Linked DNA regions of Homo sapiens. The protein of the gene in region 3 purifies or fractionates together with the protein of the main gene of each other region. This does not show direct contact. Each region holds a gene or a part of one and is shown on either strand. Other genes may lie near its edges.

Region 1 (3,500 bases), on a different chromosome or scaffold from region 3:
TGAGGGTGAAGGAAGTGGCTGCAGGCCCTGGGAAGTACCATCTTGCATCCGTGTGCAGCACTGAGTGGATACCTCATGGTTCTGTCTTGTGTACACTGTTCAGGAGGACATGTAGAGTGGACATATCACATAGAAGAAGGTCAGTCTGGAAACTGTTAGGAGAAGCACTCAAGGGCTGAGAGGCATGGTCCTTGGTGGAAAGAGCCAGCAGGCCTGGTGCTGGCGGTGCCCTGCTCGTGACAGTGTGCAAAGTCTGGAGCCTGGCCTGTTCCCGCCCTTGGCAGATGGTAGCTCCTTGTTTTGGATTATTAGCCCCTGCCGGTTTAGTTACTGTTTCTGGAAGATTCACATAGAAGGCAGTGTGGTAATTCAGTCAACGTGTTGTCTGGCATGTGGTATAAAACTCCTGTTTAAAGCTCTGATTCTGAGGCCATGCCTCAGGGACTTGAGAAGGGGACAGAGCAGCTTATTTTATTTTATTATTTATTTTATTTAATTTTAATTTTATTTTATTTTGAGATAGGGTCTCACTTTTTCACCCAGGCTGGAGTGCAGTGGCACGATCTCGGCCCACTGCAGCCGGGAGCTTCTGGGCTCAAGTAATCTTCCCGCCACAGCCCCCAAAGTAGCTGGGATTACAGGCACGTGTCATCACACCCAGCTAATTGTACTGTTTGCCGTCTGCGATTGACGCTGGAATGATTGGCTGTTTTAGTCGGGTTCTCAGGGTGGCAGGGAGCAGGCTGACTTCAAGTTGGGTGGGTGGTGAGATAGGTGGTTCAGGATCATGCAGGGATAAAGAAAACAGGAGTCTATGGGATTCTTGGGACCACTGTATTGTTGCTGGGCCTCTGGGCAGATGGAACCATGGTTTGTGCTCTGGCAGGATCCAGTTCTGCACCAGGGCTCTTGGCCTTCCGCTTCAATTAGGTGGTTGCCCTCCACTGTCTGTTCCATCTGTACGCTCCCCTCACAGTGGGGGCTCACCCAGCCTTACCTGCCCTGTACTCTCCCTTTTCCAGCACCCACCTCAGAGAGAGTGCCTGTGCTCTTTCCCCTCACACCACCTACCAGGCGCTGACCTTCGGGCTGGGGGCTGGCCTTGGGTGTTGCAGGGCTACCTGGCCCAGGGAGTGGTGCTTGGGGAGGAATGAGCTTCTGACACCTGCACAAGGAAGGCCCCCTTTGAGCAGGGCCTGCCAGTGGGGTTGGGTCACTCAAAGGGGCTGTGGATTGGTAGGTACTATGATCACAGTTTCCAGAACATAATGCCTGAGTGAGCGCATGTGTTTTGTTACATGTTCTCTCAGACATTTTATGAAGGTTTGTACATTTTTTTGCATTAAAAATGTTAGGAATTTAACTTGACAAGAAAAAGGAGCATAAGGCCGGGTGCAGTGGTTCACGCCTGTAATCCCAGCACTTTGGGAGGCCAAGGTGGGTGGATCACCTGAGGTCGGGAATTCGAGTCCAGCCTGAACAACATGGAGAAACCCTGTCTCTACTAAAAATACAAAAAATTAGCCGGGTGTGGTGGTGCATGCCTGTAATCCCAGCTACTTGGGAGGCTGAGGCAGGAGAATCACTTGAACCCAGGAGGTGGAGGTTATGGTGAGCTGAGATCGCGCCATTGCACTCCAGCCTGGGCAACAAGAGCGAAACTCCATCTCAAAAAAAAAAAAAAAAGTTTAATAAACATTAAATTGCTAAACTTTACGTTCTTCTAAATTTAGTTACGTATTTGAGCATACTTTTTTTTCCCCCACGAAACAGGGGCTTGCTCTGTTGCCCAGGCTGGAGTGCAGTGGTGCAATCTTGGCTCCCTGCAACCTCTGCCTCCCGGGTTCAGGCAATTCTCCTGCCTCAGCCTACTGAGTAGCTGGGATTACAGGTGCCCACCACCACGCCTGGCTAATTTTTGTATTTTTAGTAGAGATGGAGTTTTACCATGTTGGCCAGGCTGGTCTCGAACTCCTGACCTCAGATGAGCTGCCCACTGTTGCCTTTCAAAGTTCCAGGATTACAGGCATGAACCACTGTGGCTGGCCTTTTTTTTCCAATTTTTTGTTATGGTAAAATACACGTAACAAAATTTACCATCTTAACCATTTTCAGTGTGCAGTTCAGTGGTGGTAAGTTCATTCATACTTTTGTACAGCCATCACCACCATCTGTCTCCAGAACCCTTCATCTTGTAAAACTGAAACTCTATACCCATTAAACACTGCCTCCCCATCTCCCCTCCCTGAAGCCCCTGGCAACCACCATTCTACTTCCTGTCTCTGAATTTCGCTACTATAGGGACTTCATACCAGTGGAATTAGGTAGTATTTGTCTTTTTGTGACCAGCTTAGCTCATTTACCATAATGTCCTTAAGGTTCATCTATGTTGTAGTGTGTGTCAGAATTTCCTTCCTTTTTAAGGCTGAATACTCCATTGTGTGGATATACTGAATTTTGTTTATCCATCCCTCAACAGACACTTGAGTTCCTTCTACCTTTTGACTATTTTGAATAATAAAACTGTGAACCTGAGTGTGTAAATACTTCTCCGAGATCCTACTTTCAATTTTTTTGGATATAGATCTAGAAGTGGGATTGCTGGATCATACTGGAATTCTGTTTTTAATTTTTTAGGGAACCTCCATCCGATTTTTCGCAGCAACTGTACTGTTTTATATTCCTTTTAATTTAATTTATTTTTTATTTTTCCAAGGACTCAATAAGGAGAGAGTATCAGTTTACATTCCTACCAACAGTACAGAGGTTCCAGTTTCTCCGTATCTTACCCAACACTTATTTTCTTATGTGTTGTTGCTTTTTTTAATAGCAGCCATCCTAATGGATTTGAGGTGGCATCTTACTGTCATTTTGATTTGTATTTCCCTAATAATTAGTGATGTGGAGCATCTTTTCACATGTTCATCGGCCATTTACATGTCTTTGGAGAAATATCTCTTCAAGTCCTTTGCCCCTTTTTGAATTGGGTTTCTTACATGCATACGTGTGTGCGTGTGTGTGCGTGTGTGTGTGTGTGTGTGTGTGTGTTTTAAAGAGACAGGGTCTCATGATGTTGTCCAGGCTGGTCTCCAACTCCTGGGCTCAAGTAATCCAGTAATACTCCTGCCTCAGCCTCCCAAGGAGCTGGGACTTAAAGACATGGGCCCCTGTGCCTGGCTATGTTCATACGTTTTTACATATTTTTTAAGCTATATTGTGTTATGCTTTTAGTTGGCATTTTAGTGATTTTTAAAACATTTATATAATCCACACATTTCTCGTTTTAAAAATTTAAGGTCTCATACACTTTTGTGAGTCCAGTTTTTTTCTTTTTCTTTTTTTTTGAGACAGAGTTTTGCTCTTGTTGCTCAGGCTGGAGTGCGATGGCATGATCTTGGCTCACCACAACCTCCACCTCCTGGGTTCAAGCAATTCTCCTGCCTCAGCCTCCCAAGTAGCTGGGATTACAGGCATGTGCCACCCCGCCTGGCTAATTTTGT
Region 2 (3,500 bases), on a different chromosome or scaffold from region 3:
ATTACAGGTGCCCACCACCATGCCCAGCTAATTTTTTGTATTTTTAGTAGAGACGGGGTTTGACTCTGTTGGCCAGGCTGGTCTCAAACTGCTGACCTCAGGCTATCCACTTGCCTGAGTCTCCCAAAGTGCTGGGATTACAGGAATGAGCCACCGTGCCCGGCTCATCCCGGTATAGTTTTTACTAGTTAAGATTGTATCCTGACTTCTTACATTCCATGTTATAACATGGACATTTTATGACACCATTAAAAACACTTCTTAGACATTATGAATGTATTTTATATAGATTGACACTGTTTCAGATGCTTTCAGACACTGGGAGTATGGTGGTGAATAAAATAGCCCTTGCCAACAAAGGGAGACAGATTCACTCATATAATTACAAAACTGAGGGCTCTGGAAGGAAATCCTGGGTACTCCACTGAGGAATTTGCTCTAGACTTAGCAGCGAAGTGGAGTCAGGAAGGCCTCCCTAAGGAAGTCGTGTTTGCTCTCTGAAGCCTAAGTATGGCATCACCACAGCCCAGCCTGTTCTCCAATGAATGGCCCGCCCATGTTGGCCGTGTTGGTTTTAGATCTTGGGTCTAAAAGTTTGAGCCTGGGAGATCCGAACATGATTTTAATATGCAAAGAGGGTTCCAAGACCAAGGCAGTGCTTTGCAAAGACAACTTTGGAAATATAAGACTAAACAGCAGCGTACTTTACATGGTTCCAAACTTTGCTACTTATTCTCTCTGACAGCAAGACATGGGATCCATCTGGTGTTTGTACCACAACCCTCCCACATGCACTCTTGTCACACTGTGGGATCCTCTGGGTAGTGGATCCTGGAAGCAGACAGGTTGGGCTCAGCTGGATGCCTCCTGGGTGCCCCTTCCCCAAGTCCCCGGAGTACTGTGCCAGTCCCTTAGCCTGAGGCTGTCTCCCCATCTTTGTAGCCTCACTCTCTATGTGGAAGTAGCCTGCAATGGGCTCCTGGGGGCCGGGAAGGGAAGCATGATTGCAGCCCCTGACCCTGAGAAGATGTTCCAGCTGAGCCGGGCTGAGCTAGCTGTGTTCCACCGGGATGTCCACATGCTCCTGGTGGATCTGGAGCTGCTGCTGGGCATAGCCAAGGTACTTGACACCCCCTGTACCCCCTGCTACCCTCTAGAGCCCTGCTCCAAGAAGGTTGTTCTTTGGGTCAGATAAATGGGACTCTGGGAATCCAGAGTAGGACGAGGGTTTCCACCTGCTTGAGGGTTGAGAGAATTTTCCTATGTGAAGGGGAGGAGGGAGACGGTGCTGAGCAGGGGGACCAGCAGGGAAAAAGGGTTGGGGGTCAGGGGAGCTCTGCTGAGAGCCCTGAGATCAGTGGAGCCTAGGTCTGGAAGCTGTGCTTGAAAAAGGGATTAAGGGGCAGAACCCTGCTGCAGGGCCTCGGGAAGGACAACCAGCGCAGCTTCCAGGCCCTGTACACAGCCAATCAGATGGTGAACGTGTGTGACCCTGCCCAGCCCGAGACCTTCCCAGTGGCCCAGGCCCTGGCCTCCAGGTTCTTTGGCCAACATGGGGGTGAAAGCCAACACACCATTCATGCCACAGGGCACTGCCACATTGATACAGGTAGGACAGCAGCTGGTTGGGCTGGCTGGGGAAGCAGGAGTGCCCTTGAAGACCTGGATGTGCCCTAGAAGCACTGTGTGATGCTCAGCAAGTTCTTGCTCCTCTTGGACCTGCGTTTTCCCCGTCTGTAAAACGGGGCCGGGGGGCTGGACTGTGGGCTCTGCTTGCTTTGGATTCACTTTTTTTTTTTTTGAGACGGAGTCTCACTCTTGTCACCCAGGGTGGAGTGCAATGGTGTGATCTCGGCTCACTGCAACCTCTGCCTCCCGGGTTCAGGCGATTCTCTTGCCTCAGCCTCCTTAGTAGCTGGGATTACAGGCACCCACCACAATGCCTGGTTAATTTTTGTATTTTTAGTAGAGACGGGGTTTCACCACGTTGGCCAGGCTGGTCTCAAACTCCTGACCTCAGGTGATCCGCCTGCCTTGGCCTCCCAAAGTGCTGGGATTACAGGCATGACCCACCGTGCCCAGCCTCATTTATTCTTTCAACAAAATCTGATGCCTCATGGGGCCCATGCTAGATATTGAGGGTAGGATTACAGAGACAGATTCAGCAGGCAGAGTTGGTGTCACAATGGTGGGGAGTCTGAGGCACTGGAGAGCACAGGAGAGGTACTTACTCCAGCTGGGTTGGGGGATTCCAGAGAGGCTTCCTGGACAAGTTTGCAGTGTCTGAGTTTTACGGGAAATCCACATTTTTAACAAGCTCCTGAAGGTATTGATTCTGATGCAGCCGAAGTTTTGGGATCACAGAACAAGGGCTTTCTCTGCTGTGCCAAGATGTAGGGTAAGGTGTGAGAGGTTCTGGGCTGGTAAGGGAGGAACTGCAGCCTGGGAGTCAGGAGAGGCTGTAGCACCTCTGGTAGGACAGCTGGCTCCATCCTGGGAGCCATGCCTCTGTTCCCAGGTATACATCAAGTTTGTGCAGGGGCAGGGTAGTCCCTGCTACTTCTCGTAGGATCCTCTAGGGGATGTCTAATTCCCCAAGAGGACTGAGGCTATTCTGGGGCCTGGAGCCTCCATTTCCTGACCTGTATAATTGGCCTCATAGCACTGCCGCCTCCTTTCCCCAGCCCCTCCTCCCACCTCGCTGGAGTGAAGTGAAGTGACCACTTAGGAGGGACACCACAGGGCTTTCCAGGGTGAAGGGCCTGGGATGGGAGGGGGGCTAGGTGACCCTCTGGAGTCCCAGCCCAGGCCTGGTCAGCCTTGCTGCTCCCTCTGTCCTCCACCTCACTCCCCGTATAGCCTGGCTTTGGCCCTTCAAAGAGACTGTGAGGAAATGTGCCCGGAGCTGGGTGACCGCCCTGCAGCTCATGGAGCGGAACCCTGAGTTCATCTTTGCCTGCTCCCAGGTCAGAGGGACAGCTGTGAGGGAGGAGGGAAGCACGTGGCCCTCCCTGGAGCTCCACAGGCCCTGAAGGCTTCCCAGGCCTGGGGTCAGGGCTGCTCCTCACCCTCAGCCACACACTGAGTCCCATATGCTCAGTCCTGGGTGGGGCCCTTGTCACTCTGGTCCCAGCTCCCTTCAACCTGCCCACAGGCGCAGCAGCTGGAATGGGTGAAGAGCCGCTACCCTGGCCTGTACTCCCGCATCCAGGAGTTTGCGTGCCGTGGGCAGTTTGTGCCTGTGGGGGGCACCTGGGTGGAGATGGTAAGTGCACTGGGCACTCCTCAGCCTTGAACTGTATGACAACAGCCTTCCCTCAGGTAGCCCCGCCCTCCCGGCTTTGCTGGTGAGTTTCCACGGGCCACTCATCCCCGCTGTGTGGCAGGGCTGGCTCATTAGTCCCTGGGATCTCAAGGCCTGGGACTTCAAGGGGGAGGAGAGCCTCCAGCGCTGTGACAAGTTGCATGGCCTAGTCCTGGGCACCCCCTCAGGCAGATGG
Region 3 (3,500 bases):
ACAAATAAATGTAAAGATATCTCATGTTCTTGGATTGGAAGAATAAATATTGCTAAAATGGCCATAATACCCAAAGCAATTTACAGATTCAATGCAATACCTATGAAAATATCAAAGACAACCTTCACAGCATTAAAAAATCGTAAATTTGTATGGAATTATAAAAACATAGTCAAAGTAACCTTGAGAAAACACACACACACACACACACACACACACACACAAACAAAATGCTGGAGGCATCATACTATCTGACTTCAAAATATACTACAAAGCTATAGTAACCAAAACAGCATGGTACTTGCATAAAAACAGACACTGACCAATGCAACAGAAATGGAGAGCCCAGAAATAAATCCACACATTTACAGCCAACTAATTTTTGACAAAAGTGCTAAGAACACAATAGGTAAAAGACAGTCACTTTAATAAATGGCATTGGGAAAACTGGATACACACATATGAAAGAATAACATTAGACCCTTATCTCTCATCACATAGAAAAACCAACTCAAATGAACTAAAGGCTTAAGTGTAAGAGGTGAAACTGTGAAACAACTAGAAGAAAACATAAGGGAAAATATCTATGACATTGGTCTGGGCAATGATTTTTGGATATGACCTCACAAGCACAGGCTACAAAAGCAAAAAATAGATAAACGAGGTTACCTCTTGTGTATAGCAAAGAAAACAATCAACAGGGTGAAGAAACAACCTACGGAATGGGAGAAAATATTTGCAAACCAAACATCTGATAAGGGTTTAATATATACAAAGTACAGAAGGAATTTAACTCAAAACCAAGAAAGCAAATAACCTTATTTAAAAATGGACAAAAGACTTGAGTAGACACTTCTCAAAAGAAGACATACAAATGGCCAATAGGTATATGAAAAAATGTTCAGCATTACCAATCATCAGGAAATTGCAAATCAAAACCACGATGAGATATCACCTCATACCTGTCAGAATGGCTATCATCAAAAAGACAAAAGATAACAAGTACTGGTGAGGATATGGGGAAAAGGGAATGCTTGCACACCATGGTGAGAATGTAAATTAGTATAGCCATTGTGGAAAACTGTGGCTCCTTAAAATGTTAAAAATGGAGGTACTATATGATCCAGCAATCCCACTGCTGGATATATACCCAAAAGAAAAGAAATCAGTAATATCAAAGAGATATCAGCACTATTCACAATAGCCAAGTCATGGAATCAACCTAGGTATCCATCAGTGGATGAATGAATGATGAAAATGTACTATATATACACAATGTAACATTATTCAGCCATAAAAAAGAACAAAATTCTGTTATTTGCAACAACATAGATGAACTTGGAGAACATTATGTCAAGTGAAATAAGCCAGCCACAGCCTGGATAAAATGGCAAAACCCCATCTCTACGAAAAATACAAAAAAATTAGCTGGGCATGGTGGCATGCACCTGTAGTCCCAGCCACTCAGGAGGCTGAGGTGGGAGGATTGCTTGAGCCTGAGAGGTTGAGGCTGCAGTAAGCCATGATTGTGCCACTGCACTCCAGCCTCGGCAACAGAGTGAGACCCTGTCTCAAAAACAAAGAAGGAAAATAAGTCCAGAACAAATATATAAAGACAGGATAGGCAAATGTATAGAGATAGAAAGTAGGTAAGTGATTACTGGGACTGGTGGAGAGGGGAGTGGAGGAGAAGATAGGTGGGGTCAGGGAGAGAAATGGGAAATGTCTGTTAATAGTTATGAAGTTTATTTCTTAGGTGATGAAAATGCTCTAAAATTGATTGTGGCAATCAATGGTTGCACAACTCTGTGAACATACTAAAACCCATTGGACTGTACACTTTAAATGGGTGAATTGTATGATATTTGAATTATATCTCAATAAAAAAGATAAATCAGCTTCAGATTAGGCAGTTTGGTTACTCAGGGTTTACCTGCACTTTCTACATTTTAATGTTTGTTTTTTGTTTTCTCTTGGATTATTTTAAATCTCCTTGCCAATGGGATGCATTCTAGTTCCCTGGGACAGAAAAATTTAACACTAACCAGAAATCCTAGATGTGGAGGTATAAGGAAAACAAAGCAATTTGAGAACATTTCACAGCCCTTTCCTTTAAATAATGTGCTCAGATAGTCAGAATCTTTTATTCTATATGAGTTTGAATGGAATAAAACTCATTACCTGATTGGCATTTTATCTTCAATGGGGCAGAAGCACCCAACAGAATTGGCCTTGGGACGTCCCTATGAGCCAGAGGCCCCTGAACCGGCTTGTTGAGCTCCTTATTGATAGCAATGAAAGCTGTGAAGGAGCTTATGACACCAGACTCAAGGCTAAGGTTCAATGCATCTTTTTTATCACTTGCTGGAGTCTCCCTGAGGCCCATGTCCTTGGTCTGGAGCAAGGACTTGGCAGCAAGGCGGTGAATGGTGAGGCTGAAAGGAAAAAAAAAAAAGTACTGAAATGTAGGGAAAGACATCCATATACCAGTTTCTCAGGGCTCCTAAAAGTTAGGAATAGAAGAGTTAAGATAAAGTCAGATAAGGGGAGAGAGAAGACTTGGGTGGTTTAGAAATAAAAAATGATTGTAGGAAAACAATTACAATGGAGCCCAGAATTAAGAGAAGAAATCTAATCCCCAAAGATGGCAGAGGAAAGAAGGAAGGAAGGAGGGAGGGAGGGAGGGAGGGAGGGAGGGAATGAAGGAAGGAAGGAAGGAAGGAAGGAAGGAAGGAAGGAAGGAAGGAAGGAAGGAAGGGAAAACTGAATTCTCACTTGACATCAGGCTTGGGTTGTAGAGGAAATGTCACCTTATCCTCAAAAGTCTTGCCCTGGAGTGTATATTTGAGGCATACTTCTCCTGTTGTCTCTGCTGCCTGCAAATTAGAGATGAGTAGAAATGACGGAACATGTAATGTTCTGATCATCCATGGAAGGATCAGAACAGGGGCAGGTACCCAAAACAATGTATGAAAATATCTGATGAAGAATCAGGTAGCCTAGGAAACCGGAGACCTGAAATGATGGGAAGGAAGTAGGCTAGCTATACTTGGCAAGTGCCGTCTCTGGCTGAGATTGAAATCCACCTACCAGCTTTAGTGGAATGGTCATGTGGTAGCTCTTTGACTAGAGGAACAAATAAGAATGGGAACTCACTGGCATCCTCCCGGTCAGCTGGGCATAGCTGATTAATCTCTGACCCCTAAAGATGACAGTCTGTTCTGGGGAAAGCATTTTAGCAGACAGACCAGGAGGCAAATGCCAGCTCAGAGAGACATCCTCTACCACAGGCTGCAGAGAGCGTTTCAGAGTCCTGAGAGCCTAATGTGGGGAAGAGAACAGAATAAACACAAATGATACAGACAATGGCAGCTACAATTAACTGGACATTTATTATGTATCAGATGTGATACATAATACATGTCATGCCTACTCCTCAATACTATTCTAGGAGATGGGCTTTATATATGAAGAAGCTTTGCATATGAATAAGCCAAAGC
Region 4 (3,500 bases), on a different chromosome or scaffold from region 3:
CAATTTATAAATTTTGTAAAAGGTTACTTCTGAGGCAAATTTAAATTAACGTATTAGTTGGATTATTTATATTTTGATACTTTATAGTGGCATGGTATAGGATGAAGTTACATTATATGAAGTGGGACTATAAGAATTGAAACTGCATTTCGTGAACCACACCCTAAGTCAGTCATCACTTTATTTTGTACTCTACCCTGAGGTATCTATTTAGAATAAATGCTTAACACATCAGCACTAACACATCAAGTTATATAAGGTTTTAGATTATCTTTTCCCTATTCGTGTTTGTGAACATCTTTAGATATTTATTAGTTCAATATTGACATTATGAGAATAATGTTTTGTTTTCTCAGCAGTCTTGTGTTTTAGCCATTTATCAGTGTGATCAGCATGATTTAGGTATTAACTGACTAACAAAGCTTACACATTACCACCACCTCCCCCTCAAGCCCGTGTTGACCTTTTCAAGCATTTGCTCTACTTCAGTAGGCCATTTGAGTCTTCAAGTATGAAGAGAGTAAATAATTTATATCACTATGTAGTATAAATTGGTAAAAGTTTTTCAGAACTAGCTATCTGATTTTTTACAAAGTTATTGAAGTTAATCAGACAAATTGCTATCACATCTAGTTGACAGTGCTATATTTAGCAAATAATAAGTAATTCTTGAATGAGCTACTGAAAAAATAAACCACCTTTTTATGCCTTCAAACTCAGAACATATTAAAAAATAAATTTCATTAATCTTCAACACTTGATTCTAATTATCCCTTTTGTAGGCAGAATTGCAACAAGAATTTCTTCTGTATTATTTTTTCATAGATATATTCCATAGTATAATATGTTTGTAGGTTTTAATGGTAACTAGTTTACTTTGGCACTAAATTTGAGTGTATATCTAGCAAAAAAATTGGTGTGATAGAATGTATCAAACTGAATTGGCGTAACTTTTTTTGTATAACTGTCTACGTAATAGTAACAGGTTAGTATGAAAGCAATTAAAAATATTTATGGATAAAAATAATTGTTAAAAGTTTTCTACTTCTTTCAACTTAAGTGCTTTAAAAATGTTAAGCTGTTTAGACAATAACTCTTTTTTAGTGATCATATTAATGAGGACTTGGTATACAATGTAATCCTTTTAATGCTGATGAGTCCTCACAATGTTTAAACCATTATTTGTGAGACTCAACATGTTATGGCAAAATGATTTTTTGTTTGTTTTGTTTTCTTTTATGTGATACATCAGTTTTCAAAGCATATTTCTTAGGCTTCAGAGTCCAGCAGGTGGCTTTTTACATTAAAAAATTCATAAATTTTAAAATCCCATAAAATTTTATTTCAAATTCAAATTAACTAATTGAGAATGTCAACATTTTCACTGTCTCTATATTAACATTTATAATAGAACAAATGGTTGCATATAGAAATTATCTGCAACAGTCTAAATTAAGATTCTAAACAGGCATTACAGATGCTGGTAACTTTGGCAATTATCATTTTGTTTGGTGAACAGTAGTAAAACAGTGTGCGGTAAAAGTGTTTAGAGAGAGAGGATAAATAAATTGAACAGTTTTGCAATGCAAAGTGGTTTGTGGTGTTTTTGAGGATTTCTTGGCTCTCTCTTAACTGCTATTGTGAGCCTGGAGCAGATTTCCCCATTGCTAATGCCCTAGAAGTATTAATTCACTTTGATATGCTAATTAGAGGGCATTATGCAAGAAATGAGATTAAGTGGCAGCATGAAGCCATTTGCCTGTCAGTAAATTGAGAGCTTTAGCATCAGGAGGAGCTTTGTTTTTTTTTTTTTTTTTTTTTTGAGTTTCTCTTGGTTTTGCATATAAATAAAATTGATTGAAAGGTCTAGAGAAGCTTCCAGAACATTGGTGGATTCTTTTTTCCCCCTCCTATGATTATTTAAATGAAATGTTACAGGATTTTTCTGAATATTAATTGACCTAATTGGAGATACTGAATATAAAGTTTTTATTGTAATGTTTCTGTATAAAAATATACTAAAATTTTTGTGTCACCTAGTCTTTTTTTTCCTAAAACATAATTTCATTAACATGGCTAATGAACTGTTTATCACTTATCTCTTCTCAGAAGTGTAAACTTCTGTGTATGGGCTTGTGCACCAATGTCACTAAATTGAACTTCACAAGGATATTTTCTTCACTAGGGAAGGAAGGAAGAAGTTGAATTGGGCTTCAGAAAACTATATTAAATGAGTATTAACATTCTGACTTGAATCCATAAAAGCTGTAACAATTATAATTCATGGTTAAACTGCCCTTTATACAACCTGTGGAATTTATATTTCAGCATATATCTTATAGGTAAGATTACTGATGACATTTTGTGTGGAAGATGGAATTTCATACTGGATTCAGATTTTGTTGACTTTTGTGGCCTAAGCTAGGCCTCTGAATTTTTCTCTATAAAGCTATTTTGTGATATTTCTTATATTCTGGGGAGAAATACATGAATGAATACTAGGATTGCTGTGGGGAAAGGGAGGAAGACAGACCTTCTGTGCCTACAAGAAGGTTAAGGTTTACTCAAACATGGAACTTCTATCTATAAACCATGCATAGAGGATGGAATTGCAAAATCCTGGCCTAACTGTATTTGCTGGGTATGGTTAGAAGGAAGAGGGTTTGGGTAAGGCATTCCTACTGGGGTTTAGTTCAAGTGTCTGAATTCCACCACTGTAGCTGTGACTCTGGACCCAGTAAACCATATCTTCTCTTCAGAGCCATGTGGATTATTTAGTCACCACAGCTGCCATGCATGCATACTACCAAGGCAGGCATCTCTTCGGTGTGCATGTGTGATGCCTGTTAATGGTAATGTGAGTTACGAATGTGCACAGAAAGGAGGATGAGTTTCTCCTGAGACAAAAGTCCTGATTACATTTCGCTGTGAAGACGACTTTTAGTGTACCTACCACATTAGCTGCTTTTCTAAATGAAACACTTGGTTACTTTAAATTCTCACTCCCTTCTCTGATTCCCTGAACTAGTTAAATCAGTGAATCCTCATTAGTCTCTGATTACTTGCAAAATTTCATTTAAAACATATGAAGTTATTTTTGATTGAAAAGGGAACAAAAAGCTTTTGAAATTGCATGTTATTATTTAAACAAAGGTTTCTACAGGCTTTCAGATGTACTAAGCCCTGCAAATAATTTATAGAGGAATTATTGGGAAGGACTTATGAAATTCTTGAATGGCATTTGATGGGGAGGAAATCATTGCATTAAAAAATATATATATTTGAAATGGCAAGCTTAAATGTGCATCTTACCTTTACTATCCAAGTGTCCTTAAATGAGGAAGAATTGACTTAGGTGGTCTTACAAGTTTCATTTTTCTTTCTTTTCTCCTCCCACCATTGTTTTTTTTTAAAAAAAAAACTACAGGTGAAGGTTGTTGGAATTCATAGTCAGATATATCATTTTCAACTTGGAATAGGAACTAGAGCAGGAAATTGAT
Region 5 (3,500 bases), on a different chromosome or scaffold from region 3:
TGCAGCTGAGTTACAAGCCCAGGAAGGATTGTCTAATGATGGAGAAACAATGGTAAATGTGCCACATATTCATGCAAGGTGAGGAATTTGATGTATTAAAGTATTACTTAGAATGGGACATTGAAGGCCATTTAAGAATGAAAACGCTCATTTTATAAAAATGAGGAAATCAGTAAAAAGGACATGAGTTCCTTGCCATCTCATTGATCATCACACTGAAATAAACTCATTGAAAATTATTCAAAGACATCATGACAGATACTTCCTAAATAAGGAAGAAAATGTTGATTTCCTAACCTGCAGATTTTTGTAAACATTGGTTTTGGATGTGAACTTATCAAGACCCTGCTGTGTAAGTTTAATAATCCATGTATGGGTTGAGTATCCCTAATCTGAAAATCTGAAATCTGAAATGCTCCAAAATTCAAAACTTTGAGCCCTGACACGACACTGAAAGGAAATGTTCATTGGAGCACTTCAGATTTTTGAATTAGAGATACTCAACTAGTAATATTGCAAATATTTGGAAGTCCAAAAATTCCAAAATACTTCTGGTCCCAGGCATTTTGGATAAGGGATATACTCAGTCTGTAATACACTAAGTGTTCTTTGTTAAATTATTAGGTTTTTGTTAGATACAAGGGAATAATGAAATTATTTTGTTTTTCTTGAATTCATCTTTAAGATTTTAAATTCATTAGAAGAATTCATTATAAGGTAATCATCAGCATTTTGTTTTTCTTTTCCAGAATTTATAGAAGAAAATTTCCTAGCAGTTCTTTAAAAAGAACTTAGAAACCCAAAGGTTTTTGAATCTGTAGATTTTCCTTTTGGCATTATTTTTTTCCTTAAATTTCTTTTTTCTTTTTTCCTTGAGAACAGCCTGTGAGACAAGAAGAAAAAGGAAGATTTAGTGTTGTTTCTTGTTAAGAATGGTTTGGCTGGGCACGGTGGCTCATGCCTGTAATCCCAGCACTGGGAGTCCGAGGCAGGCGGATCACGAGGTCAAGCGATCGAGACCATCCTGGCCAACATGGTGAAACCCTGTCTCTACTAAAAATACAAAAATTAGCTGGGTGTGGTGGCACACACCTGTAGTCCCAGCTACTCGGGAGACTGAGGCAGGAGAATCACTTGAACCCGGGAGGCAGTGGTTGCAGTGAGCCAAGATGGCACCCCTGCACTCCAGCCTGGCAACAGAGCGAGACTCCATCTCAAGAAAACAAAACACAACAAGAATGGTTTAATTCTTGTGATATTTCTGATATATCGAAGGGATGATTTGATTTGAGAATTCCATAGTTGCTCCTAAAAGGAACTTGTGAAAATATAAAAAACATCAATTTTCTGTTCATTACTTCCTGTTTTGTCTTTAGGGTGTACAACTATGAGCCTTTGACACAGCTCAAGAATGTCAGAGCAAATTACTATGGAAAATACATTGCTCTAAGAGGGACAGTGGTTCGTGTCAGTAATATAAAGCCTCTTTGCACCAAGATGGCTTTTCTTTGTGCTGCATGTGGAGAAATTCAGAGCTTTCCTCTTCCAGATGGAAAATACAGTCTTCCCACAAAGGTAATACGTTCTTTAACTGCTTCTTTATTTATCTTGGTAAAGAAGGCAAATCAGAATACAGAAAACATTTCCCAGTGTTTCTGAACACAGAGCTTATTTTTATTTTTTATTTTCAATTTTCTGCTTTTATATTATGAAATACTTCAGGGTAAGAAAAATACAGAAATAAATAAAACATTCCACTACTCATCACCCCGAATTTACATTTTTCAGCTCCGGACACATTTTTTAATGATATAAAGCATTACTGGCACAATTAGTGTCTGTTTTTTACCTATACCATTCCCAGGGATGATCATTATCCTGAAGTTATTATAATATGCATCCCTTCCATTCATATTTCTGTTGACTTCTAGGTATACACACCAAGTTTTTTTTCCCCTTTATTTCTTCTACTATTTAGAAGTGATGGGTTTTTTAAATCTTTATTAGCCTTTATTAAACTGGATTTTAAAACTATAGAAAAGTGCAGAGAATAATGTAATTAACATTTATCTACTCTATGATTTGGCAAATATTAATATTATTTTAGCTTAATTTGTAACAAAAATATGGTTATATAAAGTTGAAGTCTTTCTGTTCTCAGTTTTATTCCCTTTATTTGCTCCCTAGATGCAACCACTATGCTGAAATTGGCATGTATTCTTCAAGTTTACATTTTTATTCTTGACTACATGTGTAGAGTTAGTTTTTTGTATTGTGTTTACGTAAATGGTATCCTGAATGTAACACGCAGCTGTTTTTTTATTTGGTTATTTTGTAGTTCTACCTATTTTAATACATATCAAATTCTTTCATTTTTACTATTGTGGAGTGTTGCTTTAAATAAATAGCCACAATTTATCCATTTTCCTGGAGGTAGACAATTGTGCTCTTTCCAGTTTTTTATAAGAACAAATGATACTGCAGAGAACATTCTTGTACATGTCTCCTTAGCAGAGGAATACTAAGTTGTAGGCTGTACTTTTTTTTTTTTTTTTTTTTTTTTTTGAGACGGAGTCTCGCTCTGTTGCCCGGGCTGGAGTGCAGTGGCGCGATCTTGGCTCACCGCAACCTCCGCCTCCTGGGTTCAAGCAGTTCTCCTGCCTCAGCCTCTCGAGTAGCTGGGACTACAGGCACGCGCCACCATGCCTGGCTAATTTTTGTATTTTTGGTAGAGACAAGGTTTCACTATGTTGGCCAGGCTGTTCTCAAACTCCTGACCTGGTGATCCGCCTGCCTCAGCCTCCCAGAGTGCTGGGATTGGCCGGCTGTACTTATTTTTAACTGTATTAGATGTTACCAAATTACTTTCCAGAGTATTGTTCCCAACTTAAATCTTTGCTGGTAGTGTTAAGTAGTTACCATTTCTCTGTCTTTTCATTAACACTTGGTATTGTTAGACTTGTACATTTTTGACAGTTTGTTAGGTATAAATAATACTGCATTTATAATGTGAATTTTTCTGATTTCTGTTGTGGTTGAGCATCTTTTCATATCTTTACTGGCCATTCAGTTTCTTTATCGAATTTTCTATTTATATCTAATGTTCATTTTCCTGTTTATTGGTTTATTCTTTAATTTTGTTTTTTAGAGATGGGGTCTCATTCTGTTGCCCAGGCTGGAGTGTAGTGACATGATCATAGCTCATTACAACCTTGAACTCCTGGGCTCAGGTGATCTTCCCATCTCAGCTTCCCACGTAGTTGGGACTACAGGTGCCAGCCACTGTGCCTGGTTCTATTAGTTTATTGATAGGAGTTCTTTATACATTCTAGATACTAATTATTGTTGATTATATACATTAGATATTTTCTCCCAGTCTTTGGTTTGTCTTTTAACTTTGTGGGTTTTTTTGTTGTACAGTTTTACATTTTGACATGATCAAATTGTTGTCTTTTCCTCCCTAATTTGTATATTTTATGCCCTGCTTAAGAAGCCGTTCT
Region 6 (2,741 bases), on a different chromosome or scaffold from region 3:
TCCTCCCCACTCCACTCTGTGGCTGCTGCAGGCCTGCAGGGAGTCGGGGTCAGTGGTTCGTTGCTGGCTGGCTGGTGTTGGCCAGCCCAGGAGTGAAGGCCATGACCCCTTCATTCCCTAACCAGAGCCGGCTGTACTGCGCGTGTGGTGGCAGGGGGCCTGGGAGCGGTTGCAGGATGAAGACCAAGGTCTCAAGCCAGACCAGACGAGTGCAACGTTTTTGCACATCTTGCTGTTTCAAGTGACTGCTTTGAGGTCCTGCACTCCTGGGTGGACAGGCCAGACTCCTTCAGTCACAGGCAGGCATCCCTTGGAGAAGGAAAGGTTGCAGGTCTACATATCTTGGCTTGGGGCAGGCTCCAGAGACTGCCCGGTGTGTGTGTGCCCATATGTCAGAGCCCCCGGGGGAGACTGAAAGGGAATCGGAACTGACCACCTTCAAAAAGCCAAGAAGTAATTGGTTCTTCCTTGCACTCAGCAAGCAGGGAATTCCATTCCCAACCCACCTACCCCAGGACCTGACTTGGGTCAAGAGATGGTAGGACAATTGAGCGGCCCACAGCTGAATTAGATGGATCAAGCTGCCATATCTGAGGTGGCAACATGGATGTGCAGGGCCAGGGAGGCAGAGGAGGAGGAGGGCGGGACTCCCTGCCTGCCCTTCAGGTTGATGCTGAGGGGCCTCCAGGAGACTTGGGGCCTAAGAGGAAAGGAGAAAGGAGGCACTTCAGGCAGACAGGGACCCTCTCTTCATTGGAGCAGGCCCCTCTCAAACCAGGCATCCCCTCCCAGGGAAACAGGACACTTGGCAGGAGGTGCCAAAGATGAGCCAAGACCTGGCCAGCAGATGGACTGTGTGGGTGAGCATGAGTGAATGAGTGAGTGGCAAAGCCAGGCAGAAGCTCTAGGCACAGGCAGGGCAGGAGAGAGGTGGGGACAGATCAGGCAGGGATGCTGCAAGCCCTCCCGTGTCCTAGCTTCTCCCCGCCTGCCTCCCCTGTAGAGCCGGGACAGAAGGCACTGTGGAGTTGGGGGCATGCTGGCTGAGCATGAGTGTGTGCAGGCGTGGGTACGGGCTCATGAAGAGCTGTGTAGTCCACACACATCGTCAGGGTGGCCGTGCTTCGGGCCTAAAGGGCTTCCCGCAGCAGGGAGACGGTGCTCTCACACCAGAGTCTGCCAGCCAGGGGGCTTTCCCTCCCCTGGCTGAGCCTTCCTGTGACCTGAGCTGCCCCCTGCCCATCCAGGGAGCAGGCGGGGATCCCCCTGCGGAAGGACACAAGTGAACCCAGAATGGTGCCTCAAGGCAGGCAGCCTGGCCCAGATGGTGCCCCCACTCCCCAGACCCAACTCTAACCAGGCCTGGCCCTCTCCTGTGTCTTGCAGAACTTCAGCGAGAGGGAAGCATCGAGACTCTGAGTAACAGCTCAGGCTCCACCAGCGGCAGCATACCAAGAAACTTTGATGGCTACCGATCTCCGCTGCCCACCAATGAGAGCCAGCCCCTCAGCCTCTTCCCGACTGGCTTCCCGTAGGTACCAGCAACCTGCTTCTGACTGGCCAGCCCCCTCCCCTGCTGGAGGAGGGGAGAAGCCCCGCTCTGGTCCTACCCTTCAGTCTCTGCTCTTCCTTCATCAACCACCTTCCCCAAGCTTAGTGACAGCAGCCGCCCATCCTACCTGGATGGAGAAGAGACCCTTCTCCAAGCACCTCAGCGCACTTGCCCTCTGCCACACCTGTCGGTGGAGGCTGTGGCCAGGAGAGACTGTAGAAGCTCGGTCCCTGTGTATGTTTGCATATGACATCCTGCATTGGATCCGCTTTTGTATTTTTTAACCATACCCACGGTGGGGCGGGTGGGGGGAGCCTGGAACAGTGACCAGATCTGGGGGCCTGAGTGGGGACAGAGTTGATCGTCCACCTGGCCATTTTGACCCTGAGTGGACAGTCACAGCCTCAGCTCATGTCTGGCTGTGACACACACTGCCCCCAGCTTCCCTTGGTCAGCCCCACTCCAGCACGGGGTGAACGGAGGCCCAGAGTACTAGGGAAGGAGGAAGGGAGGACATGCCTCTTCTTCCTCCTTTCTTTCCCCATCTGTTCATGGGAAGAGTTTGTCTTTCTTATCTTTAAGCCCCTTTACCCTGGTCCTGTACTGATCAGTGAAGGAAACCGTGGTTACTGAGGCCCTGTTGAAAAGTGCACGTCTTGTCCAATAAATCACGCTGCAGTTGGTGTCCATCCCTGAGTTGCTGGGGTAAGGGTCCTCTCCAAATGCTGAGCAGAGTCCTATGGCCTGAGTGCCCAGGATCCCAACACCCCCTTTCATGTGCAACTTGGGGGCAGAAGGAGTCAGTGGAGGATTGGAATGGGAAGAACTTTTGTCCTGGAATTTGGATGGGGCCTGATTTAAGAAGCCCATTCTCTAAGCATCTTGCCTGTTACCAGAGGCAATGAGTTCTTGGGGTGCCACAGGGTTGGACCCTCCTCCCTGGGGATCAGGGCTTGCCATGTGCTGGTGGGTTGCTGTCAAGGGGAGAGTCTGGCAAAGCCTCATCTGGGGGGCACCTTGTTGTAATTGCCTCTTTTTAACTCAGAAGATGGAAGGGTGGTCAGGTGAAGGTGGGTATCTCATGAAACCTGGCCGGAACCCTCAGATGACACGTTCCTGATTTTGTCCCCCCGCCCCACCACCACCACTTCCGGACCTAAAGTAAGTGGCAACAGAGACAGGAACAGGG
Region 7 (4,299 bases), on a different chromosome or scaffold from region 3:
CAGGCTGAGCATTTTCTAAACAATTTTCTTCCTCAAACTAGGCAGCCTTCCCCACGATTCGTTAAGAGTATTTAAAAATAATAAGGCATGGTTGGATTTTTTGAGCAAATGGGAGATGGTGGTAGACTAAAATTTCTACAGCCTTAGTCCAGTGGAGAGAGAAAACGATAAATGCATCACAGTTTGTGTCAAGACAAGATTCATTTTCCACACTTCATATGTGGGAAGAGGAAACTACATTTTAATTAGCACATTTTTAGGGAGGAGGGGGGGGATGAAGATGAGGCGGATGGCGTGAGGTATTTGAGGGGGACGAGTCTGCAGATGAGGAAAGGAAATGAAGTGGATTGTCGCCAGTGCCTTGGAAACGAAGGGGGATAAGGGTGGGGAACGAAGTTTGTTGTGTGTGTTAGGGTGGGGTTGGCCCAAGGGACCATGAATCATTAGAATGGCGCTCGGAGGGGTGTGCTTGCAAGTGTACTGGTGCAGGAGGGACGTGGAAGTCGTGGGTGGCAGAGAAAAGTGTGCACCGCTGGGAGGTCTATTTCAAGAATAGGTTGGGATGAGAAACATGTCTGGGCGAGGGGGGTGGGAGGCCCGGTGTCACCTGTGGATGGATCCACAGCCCTGCAATTGCGTGTTGCAAAGTTTGCCCGGCCCCGCATTCATTTTGAAGGTTCTTGGCGATGCCTCGACTTTTCGCCTCAAAGAAGTGAGCTCTCATAAGGTTCAGAGGCCGGGAGCCAAAGCGGGAGTGAAGACTCTCGAGGGGTCCAAATGAAGCAGAAGCGAGAGCCCCTGTCCTCCCCCTATGTGGAGGTGAAGCAGGGGTTGTGGGGACTAGGCGCCCGCGAAGGCAGCTGTGCTGAGAGCAAAGTCCAGGCCCCACGGGGGGCGTGCGGAGGTTGAACCTTTGCAGTGGCCTCCTACAGCCCCAGCAGCCAGCGTGGGCGGCCGAGGCTGACTCAAAGCGGCGGCTCAGCCTCGGGAGTAGGAGTAGGGGGCTCGCTCATTTAGGGCGGGAGACATTTCCGAGGCGCCCCTCCTCCCCTTCGCGGTCGGGTTTCTATCGGGGTCGTTTCCCCCTCTGGCCCTCCGGGGACGCCGCGGATTCGAGCTGCACAGTCAGAAGAGGACGTTGAAAAGGCGCCAGGCAGCCGCCCCGAACCAGGCCCTCCCGGCTGCCGGGCCTGCAGGCCCCCACCGCTGCGGCTTCACGGACTTAGAGCTTGAGGGCGCGGAGGGGGCTGCGGGGGCGGGACCAGGACTCCCGAGGGGCGCTCGGGGCGGGGCCAGAGAGAGCTCGGGGCTGCCAGAGGCGAGGTCTTGAGGAGGCGGGGCCGGGAGGCTTCGGAGCCCAAGAGGCGGGGCCAGAGGCGTAGGGGGCTGCGAGGGGCGGACCTTGGGGGCGTGACCGGGGGGGGCGCTTGGGGACCTAGGGGCGGGGCGTTAGGGGGCGGGACCAAGGGACGCTCGAGGGGCGCTCGGCTAGTCCCGCCAGAGCGCGAGCCGCCAGCCCGTAACGGTCGCCAGTGTGAGGGGCGGGAGGGAAAGAAGAGGGGTTTAAATTAGATTTTTTAAAACACAGAGCAAGCGCCAGAGGCGTCGGCATCCCAGGTGTCGCCGCTTCCTGCTGCACAGGGCTCGGCGTACAGGTCCCTCCCTCCTCAAGCCCCCTCCCCTTCTCCCGCCCTACCCTCTGGGGCTCTGCGGCGCTTAAGAGGCGGCCGCAGCGGCGGATCCGGCGGCTGCTGCAGCCCGGGCGGCTGCCGAGAAGGAGGGAGGGGAAACACAAAGCCGGCTACGCGCTGCGAGGTAATCTTGCGGGGAGAGGACGCGCCGTCGTCCCGCCTCTCTTCCGGGCCGGGACGCGGGCACCCGCGCGGGGGCTAGCACTGGGGACGCTACTGGGGGTCGCGCGGGGGTAGGGAGCGGCGGCTGGCGGGGCCAAGGGGACTTCTCATTGGCTGTCCCTGCGGCCTCAGGTGAACCCTTTTCCGGGGCGGGAGTGGGGACCACGGCCAGGCCAGAGGGGAGCGTACCTGCGGGGGAGGGTCCGGGGGTGGCGGTGCACGGCCTGCGGCGCCGCCGGGTGGGCCCGACGCTTCGCGCGTCTGCTGGTTTTCCCTAGGAAGGCGGGGAGTACCAAAATCAGTTACTGGCTGAAGCTTAGGTGACCCCGGGGACCTTAAGCCCTGAAGGTGCGCTCCAGGGGAGTGAGAGGTTCCTGCGCTTAGAAAAGGTGGAGGAAAGGGAGCGAATGTTGGTTTTAGTTGTTTTTCTCCTCATTTAAAAAAAATTTTTTTTGTTACAAGTTGAAAGTGTTCAGTCACCTTTCTCCTATAATCCGCTTCCCCACCCCCCAACACAGACACACACAAACACACCGCCCCTACAAACGTATACATGTTAGGTTGAGCTTCCTGCTAGGGGTGACAAGCGAAGTTGGCAGCAGGTCTGGTGTGCTGGTGTTTGGGGCACGTCCAGCCTCTTTGGAGGTAGGCTATTATAGCTTAGGCAAGACCACAGACAGGTAGCATAATCTGGGCCTCTTTTAAAATGGCAAGAACGGCTTCAGGTGAACTTTTTTGTTGCAGAGATTTAATTGCAAGTAGGTGCCGGTTGAAAATGGGAGCGCAAGGAAAACCACTAATTTCCTTGGCACATGTGCTGTTGCAATTAACCTGGTAGAGTGTTAAGGAATTTAACTTAGCCAAGAGGCTTTGAGGGAGGATTATATGCAAGTTTGGGGAAGGAATTGATAAGATTCTGGGGTATGGGACTAGCTACATACACGTGCGTGCAAGTTTACGTTAAATTATGTAGCATTTTAGATTTAGCAGTATTAAATGGTTGCTTTTCTTGGAATGGCTTCTGACTACATAGTGCAGGGTACGTTCCTAATTTTGGCTTTAGAAGACTCCTAGTGAGAGTGTTTTTAAAGATTGAAAAAATAAGAGTACAGTGCAATTTGTCGTTTTCAAGTTAAATACTTGACTGTTAAAAATATTTGTGTAATTAAGTTATGGGACCAACCCATTTATAGGGTTAAGTTACTTAACCCTATAAATAACTGGAACATTATAAATGGAGCATTTGTAGAAAGTTTTTATATCGAAGTCTCCATTATATTGTACTTGCATTATAACTTATTTTCCTTTGCTTAAATGGAGCAGATTAACTTTATGGAAGGAGGACCAGGATAAAATAAAGGCAGCTACATTTAACTCTTCATCTTTCTGAAGAGTTCAGTCTGTGATAACACTTAAGGTGCCCAGAAGTGCTGGCATGTTGGTAATAGTTTTTAAAGAAGAAACGGGTGTATCTATTTTGAATGTTAAACATAATTTGAAGGAGTTCTTGAGATAGTTGGTTATGAGACATTCAATGTATTGCTACATTTTACATATATGATATCAGGAAATGTTTGGTGAACATTTGACATAGTTGATCATATGACACTTGGGAAATATTTTGCATGATAGAAGGATAGTATTTTCGTAATGTAAGTTTCAAGCATTGACTGAAAGGGAGAAAATTACACACTTTGCTGTCTCACCCCTTTCTTCAATATTATGCTGGCATGAATGTGAATTCTGCCTAATTATGTTTAAAGTGTAGATCTGGCCTTTGTAAAACCAGAATGTCTTTTGAGACCAAGAGAACATAACATCAGCAACAGCCCAACTCCTACACACAATCCTAAAACCTAGATACAGGGTGGTGCCCAACTTCTGAGGTTTTGAGGCTTCCTGAAGTAGGCCTATCATGTCTGAGTGCTTTTGTCACATGTAAGCCTACAGGTGGTTAGCTGGTTAATCTCTCCCATTTCAAAGCAGTTGGTTAGCAGTACTGGGTGGCATGTATGCATGTCATCAGAGTATAAGAAGTGTTTGAGGGAAGAAATCACATAAAAGCATAGAAACCTGGCTCTGAACAAACTGTGTAGCGTGTTGGGGAACAGTCACATCAGAACTTTAGCTTAACCGAGTTGTTATATGTAAAGTGCTTAGAATGGGGTTTGTATTCAGTGCTTTTTGTGTTTATCATTATCAGTATGTAAAGTGACATATCTTTTTGAAGGCTGTTAGGTCATGCTACCCAGCATGTGAAGACTCAGCAAATATTTGTAATAGCCAATATTTATTTGCCTAACCTCTGTGCCAGGCACTAAGAGTTTTATATGATTTAATTTACTTAGTCCTTCCAACAACCCAGTGGCTAAACAGAGGCATGGAGAGGTTAAGTATCTTCCCAAGGTGACACAGGTTGGTTCTGAAGCCAGAGTCTGGCCCAAGA

What was found.
Region 1: the proteins of VWA5A (region 3) and PKNOX1 purify together in Homo sapiens (affinity purification with mass spectrometry; 2 studies listed by BioGRID and IntAct, with this or other methods). This does not show direct contact.
Region 2: the proteins of VWA5A (region 3) and MAN2C1 purify together in Homo sapiens (affinity purification with mass spectrometry; 2 studies listed by BioGRID and IntAct, with this or other methods). This does not show direct contact.
Region 4: the proteins of VWA5A (region 3) and PBX3 purify together in Homo sapiens (affinity purification with mass spectrometry; 2 studies listed by BioGRID and IntAct, with this or other methods). This does not show direct contact.
Region 5: the proteins of VWA5A (region 3) and MCM8 purify together in Homo sapiens (affinity purification with mass spectrometry; 2 studies listed by BioGRID and IntAct, with this or other methods). This does not show direct contact.
Region 6: the proteins of VWA5A (region 3) and BCAS3 purify together in Homo sapiens (affinity purification with mass spectrometry; 2 studies listed by BioGRID and IntAct, with this or other methods). This does not show direct contact.
Region 7: the proteins of VWA5A (region 3) and ADD3 purify together in Homo sapiens (affinity purification with mass spectrometry; 2 studies listed by BioGRID and IntAct, with this or other methods). This does not show direct contact.

What each region holds. Positions count from the first base shown.
Region 1 is NC_000021.9:42,981,062-42,984,561, forward strand, and holds part of PKNOX1 (homeobox protein PKNOX1), read left to right. Parts: intron 1-3,500. UniProt on the Homo sapiens protein: Activates transcription in the presence of PBX1A and HOXA1.
Region 2 is NC_000015.10:75,362,108-75,365,607, reverse strand, and holds part of MAN2C1 (alpha-mannosidase 2C1), read left to right. Parts: intron 1-942; coding exon 943-1,120; intron 1,121-1,419; coding exon 1,420-1,609; intron 1,610-2,859; coding exon 2,860-2,966; intron 2,967-3,154; coding exon 3,155-3,265; intron 3,266-3,500. UniProt on the Homo sapiens protein: Cleaves alpha 1,2-, alpha 1,3-, and alpha 1,6-linked mannose residues on cytoplasmic free oligosaccharides generated by N-glycoprotein degradation pathways.
Region 3 is NC_000011.10:124,135,950-124,139,449, reverse strand, and holds part of VWA5A (von Willebrand factor A domain-containing protein 5A), read right to left. Parts: intron 3,322-3,500; coding exon 3,157-3,321; intron 2,877-3,156; coding exon 2,776-2,876; intron 2,436-2,775; coding exon 2,182-2,435; intron 1-2,181. UniProt on the Homo sapiens protein: May play a role in tumorigenesis as a tumor suppressor. Altered expression of this protein and disruption of the molecular pathway it is involved in, may contribute directly to or modify tumorigenesis.
Region 4 is NC_000009.12:125,753,873-125,757,372, forward strand, and holds part of PBX3 (pre-B-cell leukemia transcription factor 3), read left to right. Parts: intron 1-3,500. UniProt on the Homo sapiens protein: Transcriptional activator that binds the sequence 5'-ATCAATCAA-3'.
Region 5 is NC_000020.11:5,957,152-5,960,651, forward strand, and holds part of MCM8 (DNA helicase MCM8), read left to right. Parts: coding exon 1-78; intron 79-1,376; coding exon 1,377-1,575; intron 1,576-3,500. UniProt on the Homo sapiens protein: Component of the MCM8-MCM9 complex, a complex involved in the repair of double-stranded DNA breaks (DBSs) and DNA interstrand cross-links (ICLs) by homologous recombination (HR).
Region 6 is NC_000017.11:61,390,591-61,393,331, forward strand, and holds the end of BCAS3 (BCAS3 microtubule associated cell migration factor), read left to right. Parts: intron 1-1,386; coding exon 1,387-1,535; 3' UTR 1,536-2,241; downstream 2,242-2,741. UniProt on the Homo sapiens protein: Plays a role in angiogenesis. Participates in the regulation of cell polarity and directional endothelial cell migration by mediating both the activation and recruitment of CDC42 and the reorganization of the actin cytoskeleton at the cell leading edge.
Region 7 is NC_000010.11:110,006,485-110,010,783, forward strand, and holds the start of ADD3 (gamma-adducin), read left to right. Parts: upstream 1-1,499; 5' UTR 1,500-1,815; exon of another isoform or gene 1,816-2,498; intron 2,499-4,299. UniProt on the Homo sapiens protein: Membrane-cytoskeleton-associated protein that promotes the assembly of the spectrin-actin network. Plays a role in actin filament capping. Binds to calmodulin.